2 separate regions of the Homo sapiens genome follow, and region 2 is linked to region 1. Evidence: fine-mapped expression QTL. A gene starts in region 1. The other region holds a variant in brackets. All regions are shown on one strand. Distances are from middle to middle.

Region 1 (8,000 bases):
TGACTCATATCTAATAAAGAGAATACAGCAGAAGCAATGGTGTGTGGCTTCTGAGTCTAGGTCATAAATGGCCTTTCTGTTAGAATCATTGAGGGAAGCCAGCTGCTATGTCATGAAGACATTCAAGCAGCCCCATGGAGAGGCCCACGTGACAAGGAACTGAGGTCTCTTGCCAATAGCCAATGAAAAACTGAGACTATGTGAGTTAGCCATCTTGGAAGAAGATCCGTCAGTCTAGTCAAGCCCTTCAGATGACTGTATCTGTGACTGACATCGTGACTGCTACTTCATAAGAGATCCTGCCTCAGTCAGACCATCCAACTAAGACATTCCTGAATTCTTGCCCCACAGAAACTGTTTAAGCCACTAAGTTTTGGTACAATTTGTTATACAGAAATACATAAATAACATAGTCCAAGGAGATATGTATAAGAATGTATATCATAAAGGTGTTTGTGGTTAACGGGATTTGGAGAAAACTTACGGCCTTCACTGGAGGAACAGTGATAGGTACTATAGAATACTATAGAGCAGAGTTAGCATCACAAACTAGATGGACATAAAGTAAAATGGATAGATCTTAAAAACAGTATTGAGTTAATAATGTTCAAAAATTATGTAAATTAAAAACACAGGTTTGAGTACACACAAAAAAAGTAAAACCCAAGCAGACACTTGCACACCCACGTTCATAGTAGCATTATTCATGATAGACAAAAGGTGGAAACAACCTGAAGTGTCCACTGACAGATGAATGAACAAAATGTGGCATATACATGCAATGGAACATCATTTAGACCTAAAAAGGAAAGAAATTCTGACACATGGCTACAGTATGGATGAACCTTCGAGACATTATGCTAAGTGAAATAAGCCAGGTGCAAAAGAATAAATATTAAATGGTTTTTCTTATTAGAGGTTCCCAGAATAGTCAAATTCTTTGAGACAAAAAGTGGAGTGGTGGTTGCCAAGGGTTGGGGGGAGGGGAAAATGGCATGTTAGTGTTTAATGTGCACAGAGTTTTAATTAGGGAAGATTAAAAATTTCTAGAGATGGGTGGTGGTGATGGTTGCACAACAATGTGAATGAACTTAATGCCACAGAACTGTACAATTAAAAGTGCTTAAGATGGTAAATTTTATGTATATTTATCACAATAAAATTTTTTTAAAAATCTCATTAACTGTAAAAAACAGACTCACAAAATGATGCTATTTCTCAAGAATTTATGCATATTAAACACACAAGAAGAGTGGGTGCAGGGTGTGAGAATAAAGGGGAGAAGGCTTACCTTGTATCAACTGATGATGTATGATTTGATTTACAAAGTCAACTTTTGAGAACATACCTATTCACCTAATGTTCTCATTGTACATTCAAGATACTTAGTACTTCAAAAGTAATTTAGTTTTCAAAAATTCTCTGTGACTCTAAGCAGATTTTATGAAAAAGCAGTGTTTCAAACAGCAATCCACCATATTCTTCTAAATTAGAGGATATCTTAGATTATATAAATCTTTAAATATCCTAGGAGTAGCCAAAGCAGTGTTTAACTTGTAATGAAATTTCACATAATTCTACCATGAGTTTTCTTAGAGATTAGTTTACGTGTCTTATTTGACTCCAGCATTTTTCAAAGATGATATTTAGAAGGTATCCTAATAAATATGTAGTGAATATATTTCCTAAACTATTACCCATCTTTTCTGAACCATAATACTCTATCCCATTTTATGTGCTGCATAGGTAGGTTTCAGATTCTAATACAAGAAAAGGGGGAGAAGGGAGATCAAAATTGAAGAGAACATTTAAACATATACAAGTATAAAAGATCATTTAAACATATACAAGTATAAAAGATTGGTTAAATTTCATAAAATGAGTAACAGTTTATAAAACAGACAAAAATGGTAAAATCTACAGAGCAATTAATGCAAATGGAAAAACTTCATGGTGGCTCACACCTGTAAATCCCAGCACTTTGGGAGGCTGAGGTGGGAGGATCATTTGAGCTCACGAGTTCGAGACCACCCTGGGCAACATGGTGAAACCCCATCTCTACAAAAAATATAAAAATTAGCTGTGCACGGTGGTATGTGCCTGTAGTCCCTGCTACCTGGAGGGCTGAAGTGGGAGCATCACTTGAGCCTGCGAGGTTGAAGCTGCAAGTGAGCCATGTTTGCTACTGCACGCCAGCCTGGGTTGACAAAGTGAGACCCTGTCTCAAAAAAAAAAAAAAAAAAAGAAAAAAAAACACAAAAAACAAAAACTTCAATAGCTTAAATTCAGTTCATAAAACATTTATGAATATTTAATTTTAAATTCCTTAAACAGCACAATTCAGGCCATATCAGAGCAGTGAATAATTTCAAAGACCACTAAAGCCAATAGGTCAGTCATAGATTAGATATACTACAAGAGGAATGAAATAAACTTTAGTTCTTTATTTCTTATTTAATTCAGAAAAACATCTCAATCTAACACTGTTCTACTTAAATGTGTTCATATGATTAATAAGACGATCTTTAAAAAGTCGTTTATGAATGTCATTATGAAAACTGCTGCTTCTCCATTTGCTTAGTCACCAGGTATTTTTTAAAGCATTCTTATATTGTAGATAAAAATCCACAACCAAGTAGGATTGCCTTTTCATTTTTTGAATAATTTGTCAGTGACTTACACTGTTTTTCAAATTACCTCTGTTATATATTATTTTGTATGTATGTAATAAAAGGCATTATAGTTTTATAGAATTAGAATAAAATAGAAGACTTAAGTTCTTTACATTGTTATACAATATTTGACCTTGGATAAAGTCACAACATACTTGAATAGGAGTCTCTAACATTTAAAATAAAAATAATGCTACAATGAGCTGTTAAAATGGTAAAAGGTAATTTATGTAAAAATAATAGTTTTATAGACTCTCAAACACTATGCTAATGGAATTCAAAGAACTGAGTAATATTAGCTGTTAAATGTCATTTGGAATTTTAATGTGACATCTTTAGTTCTAGCCATAGTTTCCATCAGATTTTAAAAAAGAGACTCTAAGTACTTTTTTTTGAGATAGGGTCTTGCTTGGTTGCCCAGGCTGGTCTTGAACGCCAAGGCTCAAGTGATCCTCCTGCCTCAGCTTCCCTCAGCCTCCTGTTTAGCTTGTATTACAGGCATGGGCCACCACGCCCGGCTCCTAAGTACTATTAACCCTGATATCCATGATCAAGTAATTCTTAAAGCAGAAATAATTTTTTAAAGAACTATTTAAATTTATCAGTGAAAAACTTATGTAGTCTTATTTATCTAAGCCAGCCCAATTCCGCATTATCTTGAAAATATTACTGAAACAATATAATAGGTCATCTTAAGACTTTCTATTACATAAACATTATTTAAGAGACACTGTCACTGACCCTGGAGGGCTTTACAAAGCCACTGCCATCCTTGTTCAGGGAGTGGGGAGGTGTGGCAGGCTGGCTACTATAAGTATGCATAAAGATAGGCTTTTACATTTAGGTAAAGGAAAAAAAAGCTCAATGAAAAACACTTTATATCAAGAGTATATCTCATGAGTACTCACTAAACAGAAATACATCTAGAAGAAAAGCCATGTTGCTTTAATTTAAAATATTTGCACACTGAATTAATATCTTAAATATTTATTCAGTGTTATCTAAAAGCAACCAAAGAGAAATATAAAATTACTTAACTATAGGTCTTAAATATTAGGCCTACAAAAATTTGTTCACCATAATTTTTGACAAAGTAATTTACGTTGTAAAGTGGTTTGCTCTTGAATGACCTAATTAATGGCATAAAAGCTTCACTAACAAAAGAAAAGATCCACTGTTTCATACATAATTTATTAAGATTTCGTATAGGATTTATGTTAAATCAAAGAATTTGAGCATCACTTTCGTGATGTAGAATCAAAGTGTCCAATACATTCCAATGACAAAACATTCATAGCCTGACATTATTCCTACTTTAAAAAACAGTAATTTTTTTTCTGCTGTTCAGGCTGCATTTATAAACTATGGCTTCTTGTAAATGGGCTTCTACCCCAGCATTTGCTGCAAGGTTTCTTATTCCTCTGCAGTTGTCTTTTCGGCCTAACAGAGGGAGAAAAAGCACTGCTGCAGTCGTCCGCAAAAAGCCACTACCACTGCATTTTGTAACTAACAAAGACACTGGTATCTGTTTGCCACCCTGTTCACAGGGAGTTTACTTAGATGTTTTACAAAAGCAGGCACACTACTGGTGACCAGTATTTCACCAACCAACACCACCACTCACGCTCTGCAGTACCTGCCTCCTCCTCTTTCTCTCATCCCCAGTAGCTCTTTCCACTAGATTCACATCAGCCATCTGCAGCGGTTTTGTCTCCTCTCTCTTTTGGCCACCAATGCATGTGTCCTTGTCGCCAGGGAGGAAAAGAAGCCTTTCAATGGGGTAGAGCTTTTGCTCCTCGCCATGAATATGCTCCATTCTTTGTTGTCCTCTACCCGTTTCCTTAGATACTGTTATTCCACTCTGTCAAATGGCATTATAAAAACAAAAACCCCTTCTGGCTTCAAAAACAGCTTTTCTCAGCAGACTCCCCTTAACACTTCTACCCCTCCCCCTTCTTCCTCTTCTGTCAAAAACCCTGGATCCGAAGTACAGGAAATCCATCTCCAGTGCTGCAGTGGGGGGCGGGGGGACGACGCCCCTGCCTCCTCGTTTGGCATGCTGCAGTGGACCCTGTGCCAAGGAAAGGCCATCGGTTTAAGACAGTGCGAGGGAAAACCACCTTCCCCCCTCCCCCCGCAGCAAGCCTGGCCATGGTGGCTCCAGCACCTACCCCATTTCCGAGTCCGGCAGCACCTCCATTCTGTCTCCAGTGACACCCTGGCGGGCTGCACCAATACAGCCACATGTCGGTCACGTGCGCCCACACCCAGCCAATCGGCGGGCTCCCGACGGGAATGGGGAGCGCCCTGGTCCGCATCCAGCGGATTACACAGCTGCTTCTCTCTCCGCTTCCCGACCCGCACTCCGCAGTGGGGCACAGGGCCCCGCCCAACCGCACAGCCTGCCTAGCCCTAGCCCCGTACCCCTCGGGGGTATGCCCTCGCGGCCCCAGTCCCCAGCAAGCAAGGAAGTTGATGGCAGTTGACACGCATAGTAAAGAGTCGGGGGAGGTCCGCAGGGCAGAAGGATTAGCACAAGATGCCGGAGGTGGGAGGGAGAGTAATAAATTACATCTCGATTGCTATGATTTTTGCAGCACAGAGAAACAATAATATTAAATGAATTACAATGAATAATTTTACATTACAAGTCACTGAGTTGTCAGAGTGATGACTTGTTAGATAGATCACTCGAATTATATTTGAATTAAAAATAGTTACCAGAAAAGCTATGCTAGCAGCTTAGTAGTGGAGATCAGAACTCTGGAAGTCTGGGTTGCCTGAGTTGAAGCTTTACTCCTGTCACTCTAGCTCTGTAACTTTAGTTACTTAACCTCTCAGTGTTTCAATTTCCTGCTGTATAAAACGGGAACAGAAGTACAGAATAGAGGAGTTAATATATATGAAGTATTTAGAGCAGTCCCTGACACATACATAGAAGTGCTGTTAGCTACTACAAATCTGAGGCTTTAATGTAGTATTTTAATGCAAATTCTACATTGCATTTAAATCGAACCAGGTGATGCTTAAATTCCCAATTTTATGAGGTTGAAGGACAAAATCCAAACTGTCAAGAATATATAAAGTTAAACTTAAATTCTGGTTTAAATGGGGGGAAACCAGTTTCTATTATCTATTTAAAATTTAAAAGGATACTATACTTCAAGTTTTCTTTGTTTGTTTTTTGAGATAGAGTCTTGCTCTGTCACCAGGCGAGTGCAGTGGTGCAATCTCCGCTCACTGCAACCTCCACCTCCCGGGTTCAAGCGATTCTCCTGCCTCAGCCTCCCAAGTAGCTGGGACTACAGGCACGTGCCATCATGCCCAGCTAAGTTTTGTATTTTTAGTAGAGACGGGGTTTCACCATGCTGGCCAGGATGGTCTCAATCTCCTGACCTTGTGATCCGCCCACCTCGGTCCCTCCAAGTACTGGGATTACATGCGTGAGCCACTGTGCCCGGCCTAAACTTAAAGTTTTTAAATGAAGCATATTATAATCGTTTCTTAATTTTCAAATAGTATGAAAAGAAGCAAGCTATTAAATAGCATATTTGAGGCAATTCCATTTGATTAAAAAATGTATATATTAGAAAAGCAATAGACACACAACAAAATGTCCATAGAGGTTATTCCTGGAAAGTGAGATTATGGAGCTATTTCTGCTGTCCTTTCGTGCTTTGTTTTTTTTCTCTTTCATTAGTCCCTGTGTTACAATGCCTGATATACAGCAAATACACCCCAAATATTTATTTAACAAGTGAGTTATTTCCACACTGATGGCATACTACTGTTCTATTAAAAGTTTAAATATATTTAGAAACAATTTCCCTTCATATTTGAAATAAATAAAAGCATGTAAATCAATTTGATTATATTCTAAATAACTCTCTTTTGAGAATGACTTCATTTTACAAAAGGCTTTCAAAATCCTCTTACTGAAAGCACATGATTCACTGCACAGGACTTATTTACAAGTCATTTTTTGTGACAAATTCAGAATAGGTAATTTCTCATAAGGCCTAGAACTTCCAGAAGGAAAACAGTCTTTCAAAACAAAGAATACCTTTTAAAAGGTCCTCAAAAGAACTTCTTAGTACCCTAAGACACAATTGTAAGCCTATTACTCTTGACTCAGACTATGATACAAGCTATTATTTAGTAAACCAGTTTGTAGCCAAAATGTTTGTCTAAATTTTTACTGCATGTATCATAGATATTCATCAGTGACTTAAATGACATAGTTGTAAAGAAAGCTACGACCATTATATGTTCATTAGTCACTATGCTTCAAATCTAAAAGAAAGCCAAGTTAAACATTTTGTATTTTATGTTGCCAATTACTCAGTAATATTTTTCTTATTTTTAGAGATTCCACAAAAGTTTAATTTGAATTTTTAAAACTGCTTAGCTATTTTAAAACTATAATTAAATATAGATATATAATCAAAGTATACTGGGCCAAATTTCAGCATGGAAAATTACTGAAGCATTACCTTGTCTTATCAAGTTTGCACATAGCTCAGAATAAAGCTCCTGCCATCTCTATTTGATTGAAGATGTTATTTACACTACATATACATATATATATATATATATGTATGCATTAAAAATATTTTCTGGGCAGGGTGCAGTGGCTCATGCCTATAATCCCAGGAATTTGGGAGGCCGAGGTGGCCAGTTCACTTGAGCTCAGGAGTTGGAGACCAGCATGGGCAACATGGCGAAACCTCATTTCTACCAAGAATACAAAAAAATTAGCCAGCTGTGGTGACACGCGCCTGTGGTCCTAGCTACTCTAGAGGCTGAGGTGGGAGGATCACTTGAACCCAGGAGGCAGAGGTTGCAGTGAGCCGAGATCTCGCCATTGTACTCCAGCCTGTGCAACAGAGACCATGTCTCAAAAGATATATATATTTTTTCTGATCAAAATGAAACAGAAATAAATTGTGTAACACTGTTTAAAGACCGCACTGACAAACATATCTCTTATTTTCAGTATCAGTGTTTGTTATAACCAGCTTCATTGCTTTTAGTAAATGGTTTCATATGTAAATGTTGTAAATATGAACATATAATTCAACTTAAAAAACCCTTCTGAACCTTCTGCAGCTACAAAAAAAAATGACTAAATAGGATTAATAGGATTCTTAATGTCTTAAATATTACATTCCCCAGCTACTTGGGAGGCTGAGGCATGAGAATCTCTTGGACCTGGGAGGTGGGGGCTGCAGTGAGCCGAGATCACACCACTGTACTCCAGCCTCAGTGACAAAGCAAGACTCTATCTCAAAAAAAAAAAAAAACACACACACACACACAAGAAAACCC
Region 2 (17,784 bases), 37 kb after region 1:
AGGACTGATACCTGTCTGCAGCCTGGGGTTTGGGGACCCCTGGGTCTAAGGAAACCAAGGATGACAGAGGAAACGTCATTGGATTTGGTGATTCGGAGGTCACAGATAACTTTTAAAACAGTAGTTTCAGTGGTGAAATGGTAAAGGCAGTACGAGTGCAAAGCACAGAAGCATTTAGTAAGAACTCTACAATGTACCAAACACTTGGATGGACATTTAACATGTATTAATTTCTTTAACCACCACCCTGTGAGCTAAGTATAACATATTTTATAGATACAGAATGAAATCTGAATAGTAACATACCCACAGTTACACAGCTACTAAAGTGGTTTTAAAAGACTTCAAAAACCCAGATCAAAAGTTCTATCTTGCTCAAAAGTCAATGTTCTTCCTACTATAACAGCTTCCTGGGATGAAAGAATAAGTCTTTAAAGAAAAGAATAGAAATACAGTGGCATAGCAGACTCAAGCTTTAGAACGTCCTCCTAGAGTTGAACAGCACACACACTTATATGGCAGAAGATACAAGCATCTATGTAGGCTAGAGAGGGAGAGGCTGAAGAAGGTGGACAGGAAGTGAAAATGGACAGTTTCTAGAGAAAGAAAGATGGGAAAGGGTACATGGACACATCTGGAGGGAGGGGGTTGCTCTTGAAAAGAAAGAAGGTCATTTCTTCCTCTGAGATATATATATATAAAGAGATGACACTGAGATGAAAAAAGTGAAGTGGAAATATACCTCAGATGGTTGAGATTTTTCTCAGCAAAGGAAGAGATTAAGTTATTTGCTATAAAAACCTGAGGAAATGAGAAGAAAAGGAACACAACACTAGAGACCCAGCAGAGAGCACCAACTGGCATAAAAACTGACCAATATCCTCACATAGCTGTCTCTGATGTCCCTCAGAATTTCAGGGGTCAAACTGGTAAAGCTAGCGAGGCTTATTTAGGATTGGGGACTAGAAAGGTAAGTCTACAGAAAGTGAAGCATTCTAGGCCATCAATAGGAGCTTAGTAAAAGCTGATGATCATGGGATCCTGGTTACACAGGGAGGCAAATGAAATCAGCATTAGGGTAATGGGTTGGAAGAACAGGGAGACAAAGAAGGTTCACAAAGAGAAAGAGAGAGAGAAAGGAAAAAATACCAAATTCCATAAGAGTGGAAGAGTGAGAGGGTTTGTTTGTTTGTTAGGAGACAGGGTCTTACTGTCACCCAGACTGGAGTGCAATGGCACAATCTTGGCTCACTGCAACCTCCACATCCCGGGCTCCAACAATCCTCCTGCCTCAGCCTCCCAAGTAGCTGGAATCACAGGCATGCACCACCATGCCTGGCTTATTTTTGTATTTTTTTTTGTACAGATGAGGCTTTGCCATGTTGCCTAGGCTGGTCTCGAACTCCTGGACTCATGCGATCCATGCGCTTTGGCCTCTCCCAAAGTGCTGGAATTACAGGCATGAGCCACCACACCCTGCCAAAGTGAGAGGTTTTAAAGAGTTTGTGGTCAGATGTTTTTTGATACAGAGCTACAAATCATTTTGCCAGAAGCAGTGAGCCACTGATTGGGGCTCAGCAACCCCTGCTTTGCTACTGCCCCTTCAAACTGTATGCAGAGAATTCAGAGACAACCAGCTCTAAAAACACACAGGCTCTGGTTCCAGAAAAGTGAAGGCTAGCAACGAATGAACTAGCCCATACAAGAAGCAAACATAAAAATATTCCTCCTTCTTTTAAGCTGAACAATTCTATCTCTAAATTTTAAAAATGCATTAAAAGGTCAAAAGTCCACAGTAAAGGGAAAAATAGATTATGTGTTATGAGACAGAATGAAAAGTAAACAAATCTGCCAGGCTATTTATAACCCACACGTTAAAAATTTTTAACATACAATTCTAATACAGCAGGCATAGTTTGTGCTTAACAACTTTGGAGAACATCTAGCATAACTTCAAGAAAACGATATTGCTCAATTTAATGTTAATAAAAAAGGTCCACCCATTTGCAATTTCAAAGGGCAAGCTATCATTTATATTTTTAATCTCACTTCTACAATTTTGGGGCTCTTGACACGTTATCCAACCCTTCCATCCAGGGAAAGATGGAAAAATTAGCCATGGCAACTTCCTCCACTACCGCTTTGATCCCACATTTTGCACTTAGACTCTGGCAAGGTACTACGTTATTTAGGACAGTTTTTTACACCAGTAATTCTGACTACCCTTGCTCCACTAATAAAGGAGGGAGTACTGAGACTGGCACAAGACTAAATCATATAGAAAATATCAAGTACTCCTAAGGAGGGTTGAACAGTAACAACAATCGAGAATACAAGCAATTTAAGAAGTTTTGAACTTAAAAAGCTTTTCTCCATTTTAGTCCTTTCTAAATAGAAACAAAGGGCTTGTACAACATGGAATTCTAAGACGTCAGTAGGCAATTTAAGCTAACACTGAATAAAAGAATAAATCACTTATCCTTGCTTGTACCATTAAGTGATGTCTTACATGTACTGCATAAGGTCTTCTTTTTTAAAACGAATATAACAGTTTCCAATTCTTTCACTAGATCTAGAAAGCTCACGCCCCCACCTCAACAGTTCAGAGACCAAAGATTTCCTACAGCCGAAAAAAATGAATGATTTAGATGAACAATCATTTGCCAACAGAGGCACCATTCCTCTACTTGGTGGGTCAAGGAGTCAGACTCTGACCTAACCATCCAAGGCTCCTGGGGACTTGATTCTCCCATCAAAGTGAACAAAATTCACCGGCCTTTGGATAACAGCCCTTTCTTTGTAACTCCACATGCCGGGCTATCAGGTATTTTCCCAGGCAGAGAGTTTAAAACTTTTAGAGGAAGCAAGAGGGTCCAAACGAGGAAGATGGGGAAGCGACTAAAATGGGAAGGGCGGACGACCCACCCACCTAACGCGAATGGGGCACCACTTGCAGGGGCGAAGCTCCAGCAGCAGCCAGGAAAGGTGGAGGACGGCGGGCGTCGCGACCCCCATCCACTGCGTGAGAATGGAGGACCTGCAAAGCCAGGGGCCAACTGGAGGCCTGAATGGGGAGTGCGGGGAGGGGAGAGGGTGAGACATGGAGAGAAGAGAGCCACAGAGTCGGGCCGAGCACCGTAGGGTCCCGAGCAGCGGCGGGGCAAAGCCGAGGAAGCTTTGCCGGGAGGAGACGTCAATGCCTGCAGCCTCACTCACCTGCCAGACGCTCGCCCAGTGGCCAGAAGTACGAGCGCCGCCCGGGCTCTTCGTCTCCTGCCGGACGCAGCTCCTGCTGCCGCCGGTGCTCCAGGACCCGAGAACTGAGGGTGGTACAGAAGCGGGCAAAGGGGCGACCGGACCCGAGCCCAGGGAGGCGTACATAGGGGGCGCCGAGGCCCGAGAAGGCAACTG[A/C]GTGCTTCACCTTCCTCACCAACAGCCAACAACAGTACCTGGGAACAGCATCGAGCCAACCTCGGTCCGCAGCTCCCGGGCCTGAGCCCGCAGGTCCCCCCCGAGCAGCGGCTAGGCTTCCGGCGGCCACACCCCGCCCCCTTGCTACTTGCCCTCCGCCATCTTGTGGGAGGTGGGAAGACTACAATGCGCATGCGTGAGAGGTGTTGCTGGCTTCCCACAGCCCGGAGACTAGAGCCTGTTATGCGCAGGCGCAATGGGTGCTGCGCTCCGCTTGCCGGGCACTGCTTCGCTGTTCTGTCCCGTGAGCCATTGCTGCCTAGGCAGCCGAGTCTCAGTTGCAGCACTTACTGGCCTTCTCTGAATTGTGCTGCAGCCCAGTTAATAGATCCTTCTGCACACACTAGTCCATTATTCCGCAAACATCTATCGAGTGCTCACTATTTGCTACTCCCCGTACTAGACGCTGATGATAGAAAGATGAATAAAATTCTGTCCCAGCCCCACAAGGGCTCATAAGATAGCGGAGAAACGGAGATGAGCAAGTTATTATTTTGTAGCTGCGACCTCTGCTTCCCTACCACCTCTCACTACCACCCTGTAGTTTTAATTTAAAAACACCTCTTCCGGGAAATCCTTGTTTGTCTCACACAGTTTGATAAGTTCTTTACCTTGGATTACCTCTTCAGTTTCATTTCATTCAACATTAATTGAACAATATCATTTGGGTTTCCGATATATACTAGATACTGTTTCAGGCTCTAGATTTACAGCAATAGGAAATACAATAAACTCACGGAACTTACATTCTAGTGTGAAAGAATAGACAATAAAAGACAGTCAACAAAAGAATGTTTGATGGTGATAAGGGATAGGAAGAGAGCAAACCACACAGAAAGATGATGGACAGTGAGAGGTGGTGATTAGTGATCTTTCTCCAGAGTTGACATTTAATCTGAAGCCTGACTGACCATGGGGGCCCAGGAGCCACTGGAAGATCTGGGGCAAAAGCTTTCAGACAGAGGGAACAACAGAACAGATCCTGAGGTGGTAGCAAGTCTGACATGAAAGAGGGACAGAAAGAATAGGTGACATGGACAGTGGGAAGGAGATGTGGTCGGGGTAGGCAGAGGCCAAATCAGGTAGGGCCTCCAGGTCATGGTAAGAAGTTGGATTTTATTCAAAATGGCCCTTGTATGTTGTTGACGCTGTCTCCCCTAGCCCCCACTACTCCTCTTCAAACACTTCTAGCTCCCGACTGCCTTTCTGGTTTGTATATGCCCCCTTGACTACCTAGAAGACACTTCTTCTTGTTCTTTAAATGTCTAACTTCTTATCTTTCAAGTTTCAGTTTAAATATCACCTCAGAAAGACCGTCCTTCCTAAGAATAATAAATTTTCCCCTGTCTTCCTTATTATTCTCAATCATTGCACCTTATCATTTCTTCCATGGTACTCAATATGTTTTTAAATGATCTATGTTTTGTTTCTTCACTGCCTCCACACTAAACAGTCGACTCCATAAGACAGGGAATACGTTTTGTTTACCAATGAATACACAGTGCATAGCACCATACCTGGCATGAGTGCTCTGTCACTCAGTGTTTGTTGATTTAATAAGTGTGGAAGTTTGTCAGCATCTAAGTAGTTGGTGGTGTACTATATTGGTTTCACTTGGTTTTTAAAATGAAATGCAAGTCACTTCTTATTTATATGTCTCCTCAGCTAGAATATAAGTAGGAAGGTTGGAGAGAGAGCAGATGGGATGGAGAAGGGTGGGTGATTGTGGGACAGTGGGCAGGGTTTATATTACATATGTTGTAGTATGGAGAGAAGGAAGGCTTCAAGTTAATGCAATCCCTATTATATGTGCTGTGAACTATGTTAGATATGAAATCCTCACCACAGCCCTGCTAGATAATTATCCTCACTTTTATACATGGGCAAATTCAGAGAGATTAAGTCCCTTGCCCAAGGTCTCACATTAAGGGATAGTGCTGACCATAAAGCCCATGCCCTTCCCATCTAGAGAAATTGGATTTGGAGACAGGCTTACTCAGAGATTTGATTCTGTGTCATTAGCAGGCTTTCATTAGAGATTTCATTCAGTTACCCCCACTTAAGGGTCCCAGTCGTATTACTATCCCTGTGTAGGACCTCAAAGGGCCTGCCTGGAAACTACTGTCGTTCTTTTCTTTTGAACTAGAGCAGAACTCATTTTAGCATTTTCCTTTTAATGTTTTTTAAATTCTGTATTTATTTTTATTAATAACATATATATTTTCATTAAAGGAAAAGAAGAAATACCAGCAAAATGGATACATAGTCTAAAGGCTAGCTGCATCTATTGGTTAGGCTTCTCAATGTGCCTAGATGGGACTTGCTGGCCCATCTAGGACCCAGCTGATACCTTAGACCCCCAAAGACCCTTCTGGAAAAGAGTTATAGGCTCACTGCAACAACCTCTTCTTCCATTGACTTATCAGAATTACACACCATCATTTCCCCTCTAAATGGGATAGCTGCCTCAGGATGGCTGGGGAGACCTGCCAGAAAGGATGGGGCTGGCATCTTATCTGTGGGGGCCATTTAGTCCTTATATGAGAGAAGAGATTCACTGAACCCATAACATATGCTCTTCAACCAAGCCCTATCAGTCCATATGCAAATCAAGTAGTAGGTAGGAATATATACTTGAAAACACTTCCCCGCCTTCTACCTCACTACAATGTAATCCTTGGAATAAATCCTAGAAACAAGACAAAGTCTTCAGTTTCTATGGTATTTACTTCTCTTATGGTTACCATCTGTTAGAGACTGAATTGTACTACTCCGAAAAAAGGTATGTTGAAGTTCTGACTTTCAGTACCAAACAATGTACCCTTATTTTGAAATAAAATTATTGCAGATATAATTAAGATAAAATGAGGTCATACTGCAATAGGGTAGGATAACCCACCATGACTACTGTCCCTTTAAGAAGATGACCGTGTGAAGACATAGACAGAACGTGAGGATGCCAGATGAGGACAAAGGCAGATTGGAGTTATGCAGCTACAAGCCAAGGAATGCCAAAGACTGCCAACAAACCATCAGAAGCTAGGAAGAGGCATGCATGGACTTTCCTACAGGTTTCAGAGGGAACATGGCCCTGTGGACACCTTGACTTTGGATTTATAACTTTCAGAACTCTGAGTCAATAAATGTCTGTTGTTTTAAGCCACCCAATCTGTGGTACTTTGTTATAACAGCTCTATGAAATTAATACACCATTTTATCTGGCAGGGCCTGAAATAGAGGAAAGAGATGTTGGCAGGCAGTGAGAAGGCTTGAGCTACCGCTCCAGTATGAGCAAGCCAGCTGCACAACCTCAAGCCAGTCGCTGAACAACAGTTTCCTCATCTGTACAAACAGAGATAATGACAGCCACCCTGCCTACTTCAAAGATCTGCAGTGGTAACTAACAAGTATTCCTCCAGTGATGCTGTGACCAAGGTCTGACAGATACTAAGAAACAATTATGTAAAGACAGGGTTCCTGCCACAGGGAATTTTACAGTCTGGCTGAGAAAACTAGACACTTTCCTATGATAAGATAAATAGTATGGGCAAAGTGCCAAGTGCGTGGTTTGGATCTTATTCACTATTGATGCTGAAAAAGGGAAGGATCCTGTGGACTGGGGTGGAGAGGGAGACTTCATGAAGGGCCTTAGCAGAAAAGGAATTTATTAGAAGGATATTTGACATCTACAGGATCTTCAGGAACAACACGCAACATTATGCCCGGAACTGGTCCCAAGAAGCCATCACTGTAGCCACTGCTGGATGCAAATACCAAAACTGAGACTGCCAGTACCACTTGACCCAGAGTGGATGATGCCTCTGCTGCTTCTGGAAGATAGATGCAGTTACTATCACTGCCACTACTCTCAACAGAATGGAGGGTCACTTCATATTCACAACATTAGCTTTCAACCTCAAGCCTAGAATGGGGGCAAATCATGGATATAACCTAGTAACACATTAACACTCTACCTACATGCTGTCTGATAGAAATATAATGCAAGCCACATACATAATTTTAAATTTTCTAGTAGCCACATAAGACAGTTTAAAAACAAAAACAAAAACAAAAAACCAGCCTCTAATCCAAGCAGTTTGGGAGGCTGAGATGGGAAGATTGCTTTAGACCAGGAATTTGAGACCAGCCTGGGTAATATAGTAAGACATTGTCTCTACAAAAAAATATTAGCTGGGCATGGTGGTGCATGCCTGTAGTCCTAGTTACTCAGGAACCTGAAGCCGGAGGATCACTTGAGCCCAGGAGTTCCAGGCTGCGGTGAGCTATGATTGTGACACTGCACTCCAGCCTGGGTGACGGGGGGGAGACCCTGACTCTAAAGCAAAACAAAAACCAGGTGAAACCAATTTTAATAATATATTTTATTTAACCCAATATATCCAAAATATTTCAACATGTGCCACTAGACATACGTCAAGTGCTCAGTAGCCACGTGTGGCCAGTGGCTACCATGTTTGACAGCACAGCGGTAATTGATAGGAAGGCCAGGAAAATGAGCATATGAACTTCTAATTTCGATAGTGAGAGGGAATTTCTGCTTCATGAGGAGGGCAATCTCCTAAACACAGTAAGAGAATTAAGACATAGTCTTACAAATGGAAAATAAAGTTGAAGGAAAACCAAACTGGATTGTAGAGAATGGAAAATGGTAAACTAAGGACATTTAATTTCATCATGTAGTGACTGAGAGCCACTGAAGGTTTGTGAAATGGGGAAGTATTTTGAAAATTTAATAAAAGTACCATGAAGGGGTAGGTGATAAAAAACACTTGAAGTTAGAATTTCTGGGCTTAGTTATGTTTTTTTTTTTTAATCTGTGCAGCTTTATACAAGTTGTCTCTCTGGATTTTTCTTCTCATCTTCAGACATGGTGCTTATAATATCTATCTCAGGCTTGTTGTGTTGTGAGGATTAAATGAAATGGTACATATGAAAATGACCAGCACCTGGTGCATTATTTAGGGTTCTCCAAAGAAACAGAACCACTAGAATATATATGAGATTTATTATAAAAATTGGCTCATGTGGTTATAGAAGCCAAGAAATCCCACAATCTGCCATCCATAAGCTGGAGAACCAGAAAAGCTAGTGGTGTAATTCAGTCTGAGTCTGAAGGCCTGATAATCAGGGTGCTGACAGTATGAATGCCGGTTTGAGTCTGAAAGCTCGAAAAAACAGGAGAGTTAACGTCCAAGGCAGGAGAAGATGCTCACCCACATTGGTGAGGGAGATCTTCTTTATTCAGTCTATGAATTCAAATGCTACTCTCTTTCTGAGACACCCTCACAGACACACCCAGACATAATATTTTATCACTTATTTGGGCGTCCCTTAGCCCAGTCAAGTTGACACATAAAATTAGCCGTCACACTTGGCAAGCACTCAATACATGATACTTAAATCTGAATGAATCTGAGTATCCAGTTAGAGGTCTAGATAGATAGTAAGGAGGTTGGATTATTTCCTAAATGTCAAGAGGAGCTCCAGGGTAAAAACCCAGAAAATATGTATTTTAGATATCTCAATTCTGTCTCAGCGTCGACAAGTTAAAATGTGTACTTGTTTTTTGCCTAGACCATGTCTTCCTTGAAGCCCTTACTGGTCATCCCTGGCCAGAGGTCATCTCTGCTTCCATGGCTTATTGTTCTCCTTTAGGTAGTATTACATTGCCATGTGTTGGCCTCATGTCTTGTCTTCTTTACTATAATAGATACATACATGAGGGCATAGGCCATATCTTATTCATATTTGTATTTATCTCCTACAATTTCTTGAATTGAAAGTGTCCAAACAAACAGAAGCTGGATGATGAGTACCATGAGTATTCATTATATTATTCTTACTACTTTTGTGTATGCTTGGAATTTTTCATAATAAAAAGTACTTTTAAAAAGACATCCAAGAAACTTCTGCTGCTAGATGGGGGGCTAAGTACCAGTGTTTACTTCCTTCTCCTCTGTATATTCCACTAAAATATCAGTAGCAGGACTTAATTTTTGATGAAACTAATGAATGTTAAGCTTCAAGGCTCTTCACTTGCGTGGGCCCTTTTCAAGGTCCTGGAAAATGCCTTAGCAATATGTTCATAAGTTTTTGTAAAATCTGCAAAAGTAGTATCTCTTAATCACAATTGGTTAAGGGCATTTCTCTTTCCACTTTGACTTACTGTCTGTCACAGGTCTGTTTTGTCAGGTGGTATTAGAGTAGCTGTAATAACTTTGGGTTCCAGCTAAGGGGAAGTTGAGTTTAAGAGACATTTTTAAAAATTTGGTCAGAGGATATTTATGTGATTCATAGTTATGTCTGTGTCTAGTATCTTATTGATAACTATCTTAGTGGAGTAATAACTTCCAGGAGTACTTCTACAGTCCAGTGCCTGACTCTGTCTGCATTCTAACACAATGGGGCAGGACCAGAGTTTGTGTTGTAACATGAACATGTTCTGTGGCACCTGAACCCGAAGTATGTATACAGCCAGAAGTTAGTCTATAGAAAATTCTTCCAAACTTTATAGCACATATGGAAAATGAACGTGTAGGTAACACGGAAAAAGAAAAGACATGATGGAAATTTTCCCAAATGAGATAACAATCTTAAGAAATCACAAGCCATTACTAATAACAAGTTGTCAAGCTGAAAAAAATCTAAACTATCAATAATAAAAATTTTGTGATTAACCATGTTAGAAGAAAGACAATTATATTTCTATTCAATCTATTAAATTATAATAAAACAAAATCACCACTTAAAGAGCATCTAGAAAAAAATTTAGGACAAAACTACAGAGGTATGTCAGGCAGTAAAATAATGCACTTGTGTTATTTTTCCAGGTTTTGTGATGCTTGTGGATTTTGTGTCAGCATTCTAGATTTATTTTTTCATTCTAAAGAAATATTTACTTTTTCACCTAAATTTATATTCAAACGTTGTATTTTTTTTTTCAAATTCAATGCCTTATCATGGGCCTCTGCAATTACAGTTAGAGACATCAACATCCCTCTCTCAGTAATTGATAGAACTACTAGGCAGAAAATCAGCAAATACATAGAAGACTTGAACAACAGAATTAATCAATAGGATCTAACTGACATTAATACAACACTCAGTAGAATACACTTTTTTTTTTTAAAGCATCCATGACACACCACATCTTTGGCCAGAAAACAAAACTATGCAGAATATGTCCTCTGAGCATAATGAAATTTAATTAGTAATCAATGAGAGAAAGGCAATGGGAGAATCTCGATACACTTGAAAATTAAATGACACACTTCTTTTTTTTTTTTTTTGAGACGGAGTTTTGCTCTTGTCGCCCAGGCTGGAGTGCAGTGGCACGATCTTGGCTCACTGCAACCTCCGCCTCTCGGGTTCAAGCGATTCTCCTGCCTCAGCCTCTCGAGTAGCTGGGATTACAAGCGCCCACCACCACACCCGGCTGATTTTTGTATTTTCAGTAGTGACAAGGTTTCACCATGTTGGCCAGGCTTGTCTCGAACTCCTGACCTCAAGTGATCTGCCCACCTTGGCCTCCCAAAGTGCTGGGATTACAGGCGTAAGCCACTGTGCCTGGGCTAAATGACACAATTCTAAATAATACCTCAGCAAAGAGGAAGTCTCAAAGGAAAGTTTTAGAAAATATACAGAACTGAATGGAAATGTAAATACAACATATCAAAATTGGTGGAATGAAGCTAAGGTGGTGCTGAGAGGGAAATTCATAGCACTAAATGACTACATTCAAAAAAATAAAATGATTACCTTAGAAAAGATCCCAAATTAATCACCTAAGTTTCTACCTCAAGAAAAATGAAGAGCAAAATAAACTCAAAAAAAGCAAAAGGAAGGAAATAATAAAGATAAAAGCAGAAATCAATGAAATTGAAAAGAATAACAATAGGGAAATCAATAGAACATGAAGCTGGTTGATAAACCTCTAGCAAGCCTGACAAAATAAAAAGAGAGGGGGCACAAATTACCAATATCAGTCATGAAACAGGATATAATTATAATTCTTGCAGCTATTAAAAGAATAAAAGGGAATACCATGGACACATGTACACTTATAAATTAAACAACTTTAGAAGAAATGGACCAATTTTTGAAAACCGTAAATGACCAAAGCTCAAACAAGATGAAACAGAATAGTCCTATAACCATGAAATAAATTGAACTGCCACTAAAACGCTCTGGAAAAAGAAATCTCCAAACCCAGATGGTTTCACTGGAGAACTCTACCAAACATTCTGAGAAGAATAAGCTCTGATTTTAAACATTCTATCCTAGAGAATAGAAGAAGAAGGACTACTTCTCTATTCACTTTATGAGGCCAGTATTACTTTGATACCCAAACTAGACAAAAACAGTAGAATAAAAGGAAATTACAGACCAATATTTCTCATAAACTTAGACACAGAAATCCTCAACGAAACATTGTTTTTTCTTGGAATCCATGGGGAATTGGTTTCAAGCTCCTGAGAATACCAAATTCCACAGATACTTGTTTCTTATATAAAATGGCACAGTATTTGCATATAATCCAGGCATATCCTCTGTATATGTTAAATCACCTCTAGATGACTTTATAGACATGCTCTGCTTAACGACAGGAATACATTCTGAGAAATGCGTTTGGTGATTTTGTTATTGTGCAAACATCATAGCATGTACTTACACAAGCCTAGATGGTATAGCCTAGGACACACATAGGATATATGATCTAGCTTATTGCTCCTAGGCTACATACTTATACAACAGGTTACTGCACTGAATACCGTAGGTAATGGTAACACAATGGTAGGTGTGTGTATATTTAAACATAGAAAAGTTACAGCAAAAATATAGAATGATAATTTTAGGAAATCATCGTTGTATATGTGGTCTGTTATTGACTAAAATATTGTTATGCACTTCATGATTGTAATACCTAATACAGGATAGATGCTATGTAACTTGTTGTTATACTATATTGGTTTTTATTTTTATTATTTTCATTGTTATATTGTTATTTTTATTGTTCTTTTTCTAAATATTTGTGATCTGCAGTTGGTTGAATTTATGGATGCAGAACCCACAGATATGGAGGATTTTGAGTGTACTAGAAAATCAAACCCAATAATATATTTAAAAAAAATATGACATGGCAAGTAGGATTTCTCCCAGGTATGCATGGCTAGTTCAATATTCGAAAATCAATGTGATCTACATTATCTACATACAACAGGCTACAGAAGAAAATTCATGTGTAATCACATCATTTGATACAGAAAAAGCATTTGACAAAATGCAACACCCTTTCATGATAAAACCTGGGTCTGTTCCCTGCCCAATAACTGCATAAAAGGGAATAAATTTGTGACTATTGAGAATGAAGAATGTTCCATCAGCTGATGAGAGATTTGGCAAGTGTCTAGAAGACAAGAAATGATGGATGAACCAAGGTGGAAGACATGCTCCAATCCAGAACATAAACTGCCTTATGGAGAGGCCCACCTGACGTGGAATTGAGGGAGGCCTCTGCCCAAAAGCTAGTGAAGAACTGAGGTTCTTAGTCCAACAGTTCATGAGGAACTCCCTGCCATCAATCATGTGAGAGAGCTTGGAAGTGACTCTCCCAGTCAAGGCTGCAGATGATAGCACAGACTTGGCTGAAAGCTTTATGAGAGACCTTGAAGCACGGGTACCTAGGTAAACCATGCTCAAATTCCTGACCAATAGAAACTGTGAAAAAAAAATACTTCTTGTTATAAGCTGCTAAATCTTGGTATAATTTGGAAGGCAGACATGAGAAGGTATGAATTCCATTTCCAGCAGTAATTGAATTGGTCATAGAGCAAGTTTGAAAATCTTTATGACACCAATTATACATGTTTCTTCTTTTTTTGTTTCTCTTGTGCCTGTATCAACATTTCACTCATGATACACTAAGCTTCCCTTCTTTTAAGCTCCACCTATTTCTTAAAACTTTCCAATTAAAGTGGCTGAATGCAATAATCAGCCAGAGACTCTGTGCTTTTCTGTCTAATGACAAAAAAAAAAAAAAAAGGAAAACTCTCCATCTGGGTAGAAATTGATAATTAGCCATATCCAATTCCTGGACATCTGGCTTTTAAATGAAACTGAGCATAGCAATGTCTCCTCCCTCGGCATTATTTTACTGAAAGTGCTACGTATTCTTCTAGTACTTAAAGGGACAGCACCAATGTAACTTGAATATCAAGTTACTAAAGATTTGTCTCAATTGTTTTTCATACTACCAAAATCTTAGCTGTTTATCATAGAAAATTTGGAAACTCCAGAAAATCTCAAGAAGAAAGAAAAAAATCTCACCATTCAAGATAAGAATTGTCACCATTTTGGTGGTGCTCTTTCCAGGTTTACTTTAAAATGAAAGGCATTTCAGAATAACAATATTGCCCTCTACAATAAATCCTCATTTTATAAAAGCATATTTTAATGAATAAAATTTAACAAAGAAAACCAAATCATTTATTTCACTGAAATTCACATCAATATCTTGACACAGTTTATGGTTTGGCTGATGACATTGATAATCCGCCCTAACAACCAGTCTGAGTAGCTCAGGGGAACATCCCACAAGACCAAAGCAGCCCCAGCAGCACGTTGAGAGCGGTGGGGCTCAAGAGAAACAACATATGTTTGCATCCGCTCTCCCTTCATGCTGCTACAGCTCCCCCGTCATTTGGGGTTGGGGAGGGATCCAGAGACTTGCACCAAGATCTTTAGTAGACTGGAACCAGCTTAAAGAACTGAGAGAAAGTCAGTTTAGAGATTTTATGAGTTGGCAATTACACACAGCTATTATTAAAAATTAAATAATATAAAATTGCAATTCAATAAATTATATTGAAAACAAAGGTAATAAGCACTCAAAACTCATCACTTTCAAATCATTTTCTCACATTTAACCATTTCCTATGCTCCTGATGCCATTCCATCTCTTGTATCTAAATGGTGGAAAAACTGTATAATGTTCTAGGGCACATCTACTCAAAACACTAAGTTCAATGATGTCACATTGGTAGTTTGAAATTGGCCAGAGCGAGAGCATTTACACCAGGGAACTCAAGAAATGCTCAAAATCTGGGCTTGACTTATTGTTTTGTTGATAGTCTAGTGATGGAGAAAATGTTAATGCTGTACATTAAAGTTAAAAGCGTGTCACGTCTATTGCTCTTACTTTGCGAATAGCACACAGATTGAGGAAATATTATTCCGGTATTTAAAAACCATTATCAAATTCTTCCAAGTCGCTCACATTATAGACAAATAAATAAAGTTCTAACATATATCTTTGTTGTTTCATTTTCATCTTACTCATTAATGACTAAGAAAATATCAGCCAGGATTCTTGTCAAAACTACACTTGTTTGTTATTTATAATGATAGGTTGGCTACAGATACAAAAGTTCAGCAAAAATCAATGAAACAATCATGGGCAAAAATCAGGAGAATTATTGGCTATATGAAAGTCACATTAAAGAACATTTTCTGTTTTGCTAATATTTATACACTATGTGCTATATACTCTTTTTTCTCTATTTTTTCTTTTTGTTTGTTTTTTTTTTTTTGAGATGGAATCTTGCTCTGTTGCCCAGGCTGGAGTGCAATGGCATGATCTCGGGTCATTGCAACCTCTGCCTGCGGGTGCAAGCAATTCTCCTGTCTCAGCCTCCTGAGTAGCTGGGATTACAGGCGTGTGCCACCATGCCCAGTTAATTTTTGTATTTTTTTTTTTTTATTAGAGATGGGGTTTTGCCATGTTGCCTTGGCTGGTCTTGAACTCCTGACTTCAAGTGATCTACCTGCCTCAGCCTCTCAAATTGCTGGGAATTATAGGCGTGAGCCACTGCACCCAGCCTGTGCTATATACTCTTCATATCAGTAAAATTTAAAAGAAACTTTAGTTTGTGTGTGTGTGTGTTTGTGTGTGTGTGTGTTTGTGTGTGTGTGTGGGTGTTTCAGAGAGCTGGTTACTAATCATTTACCAGTGTACTACTGATTAGAAGCAAATGCTTCCTTTTGCCCTACTCGACTTAGCCCCCAGCTAATCCCTTTCAGCAAGGTTTCAGCTGATGAATAAATAGGAAAAGTAAGTGAAAGAAAAATAAGGGCTGCAGGAAATAGAAGAGGGAGGAAGAATATAAAAGAAAGACAGGAAGGAAAAGAAAGATAAATTTCTCCCTGACTTGCCTGTGTACATCTTTCTTTCTCTTTATCTTTTACCATCAGCCAGCAGCTGTCTTTGAGAAAGGAGACAAACCATTGCACAACCCTTTAGGAGTCCTGGAACCACAAATATGTCAGGGATTAGCTGGTAACCCCACTCATAAGAGAGCTAAGAGGCCAGCAGTCTCCACCAACAATGACCACAGTGATCTGGGTCAGAGTTTTTTGTTTTTGTTTTTGTTTTTTTAAATTGAGCTGTAATTTATACACAGCAAAATTCACCATTTAAAAGTATAGTTTAATAAGCTTTGACAAATGCAGACAGTCATGTAACCACCACCACAATCAAGATATAGAACTTTTTTGTCATACCCAAATGTTCACTTGAGCCTATTCGTGGTCAACCCCTCCCCATTTCCAGCTGCTGGCAACCACTGATTACTTCTCTATCCCTCTTATTTTGTTTTTTTGCAGACTGTCCTATACCTTATGAGTCCAGCTTCTTTCACTTAGCATAATGTATTGGAGATTCCCCCGTGTTGTTGCATGTTTAGTATTTCCTGTCTATTTACTGCATTATACGGATGTACGATTGTTTGTTACCCATTCACTGGTTGAAAAATATTTGGGTGTTTTCAGTTTGGGGTGATTATTAATAAATCCATTATAAATATTTGTGTACAGTTTTTTGAGTGGGTATATGTCTTCATTTCTCTTGAGTAAATACCTTGGAATGGGATTTTTGGGTCATACGGTAAGTGTATATTTAACTTTATAAGAAACTGCCAATCACATATCTTAAATGATGAGCATCTTTTCATGTACTTATTTGCCATCTATGTATTTAATTTGTTGAAGTGTCTGTTCAAATTTTTGCCTATTTCTAAATGGGATTTTAAAAACCTACTGAGTTGAGAGAGCTCTTTATGTATTTTGGAAATATGTCTTTTAATGAATATGTATTTTATAAATATTTTCTCACAGTCTGTAGCTTATATTTTTAACAGTGTCTTTTCAAGAGTAGAAGTTTTAAGTTTTAATGAAGTCCAGGTTATCAGCTTTTATTTCTTTTGTGGATCATGTTATAGGTGTTGTATCTAATGAATCTTTGCCTAACCCAAGGTCACAAAATTTTTCTCCTGTGACTTTTTCTAGACATGTTACATGTTGTACATTTAGGTTAATGATCTATTTTTACCTTAATTTTTGTGTGTGGTACAAGATAAGGGCTAAGGTTCTCTCTTTTTTAGTATATAGATGTCCAATTGTTCCATAATCATTTGTGATTATCATTTAAGAATCTTCTTTCTCCATTGAGTTGATTTTGCACCTTTGTTGAAAGCCAATTAACCGTATGTATGTATATGGGTTGTGTTCGAATTTTTAAAAGAGACTTCAATGCTAGGGGCTACCAACTACTTTTCTAGGGAGGAAAGCTAGTATCTCAGAGAGCCAGACACTGTTCTCACCAGTTCTGAGAGATGAGTAAATTCCTAAAGCAGGAAGCTTTGAGGGAGGCTCAAGCATAGGCTTGCTTTACCTTGAACTGAAAGAGACAGGTTATTGTCTGACTACTAGCTACCAGGCTCATGGTAGTCCTCATGTGCCTGAACACTAGGCAATCCTGAATATGAGGAGACCTTCCTTTTTTTTTTTTTTCCAAAAAAGCGACTAAAAAATGATAGGCCAACTTGGAAACAATACACACTTCTAAGGATATAGTCAAAACAGTCAAATGTCTGTTTCTAAAAACTTTGTTATAATTAACTATTATTTATTAAAATCCCATATCATATAAAATGACATGTGCATTTAAGAATGTTCTAGAGTTTTTCTGTCTCACATATTATGACCTAGTTTTACTTAAGTTCCTTGCATGTATCTTCAGCATTATAATCTTTGCCAACACTAGAACCACGCTGGTGTCATCTTACCCCGGTTTTTTCCAAGCACATCAGCTTTGTTTCATTCGATCTGTTATTTGAAATACAGCACTTTTTGAATCCCAGCAAGAAGCTGTCTTCAGCAATTTTATCATAAGCTACAAGTACCTATTTACATAACATTATGGGAGTTGGCATTTTTATTCATTTTGAACCCATGCTT

Direction of the effects. Positions count from the first base shown, and alleles are read on the strand shown. Sizes are in standard deviations (SD) of each study's normalised expression.
As copies of C replace A in region 2, the expression in monocytes of the gene that starts at base 4,884 in region 1 goes down (large effect, 1.2 SD a copy in Quach 2016).

What was found.
Region 2: its variant is fine-mapped to the expression of APC in monocytes (Quach 2016, PIP 0.95).

Annotation. Positions count from the first base shown.
Region 1 is chr5:112,734,769-112,742,768 of GRCh38, reverse strand. APC (APC regulator of Wnt signaling pathway) reads right to left here and starts at 4,884. Exons shown (of 16, transcript NM_000038.6): 1 at 4,844-4,884.
Region 2 is chr5:112,693,315-112,711,098 of GRCh38, reverse strand. It overlaps a transcript of APC not described here. Among named protein-coding and RNA genes, the nearest start is that of APC, 36 kb to the left of the region's middle. RefSeq lists enhancers at 3,562-3,621, 6,653-6,947 and a silencer at 6,653-6,947. The variant A/C (reference allele first, on the strand shown) is at 3,412.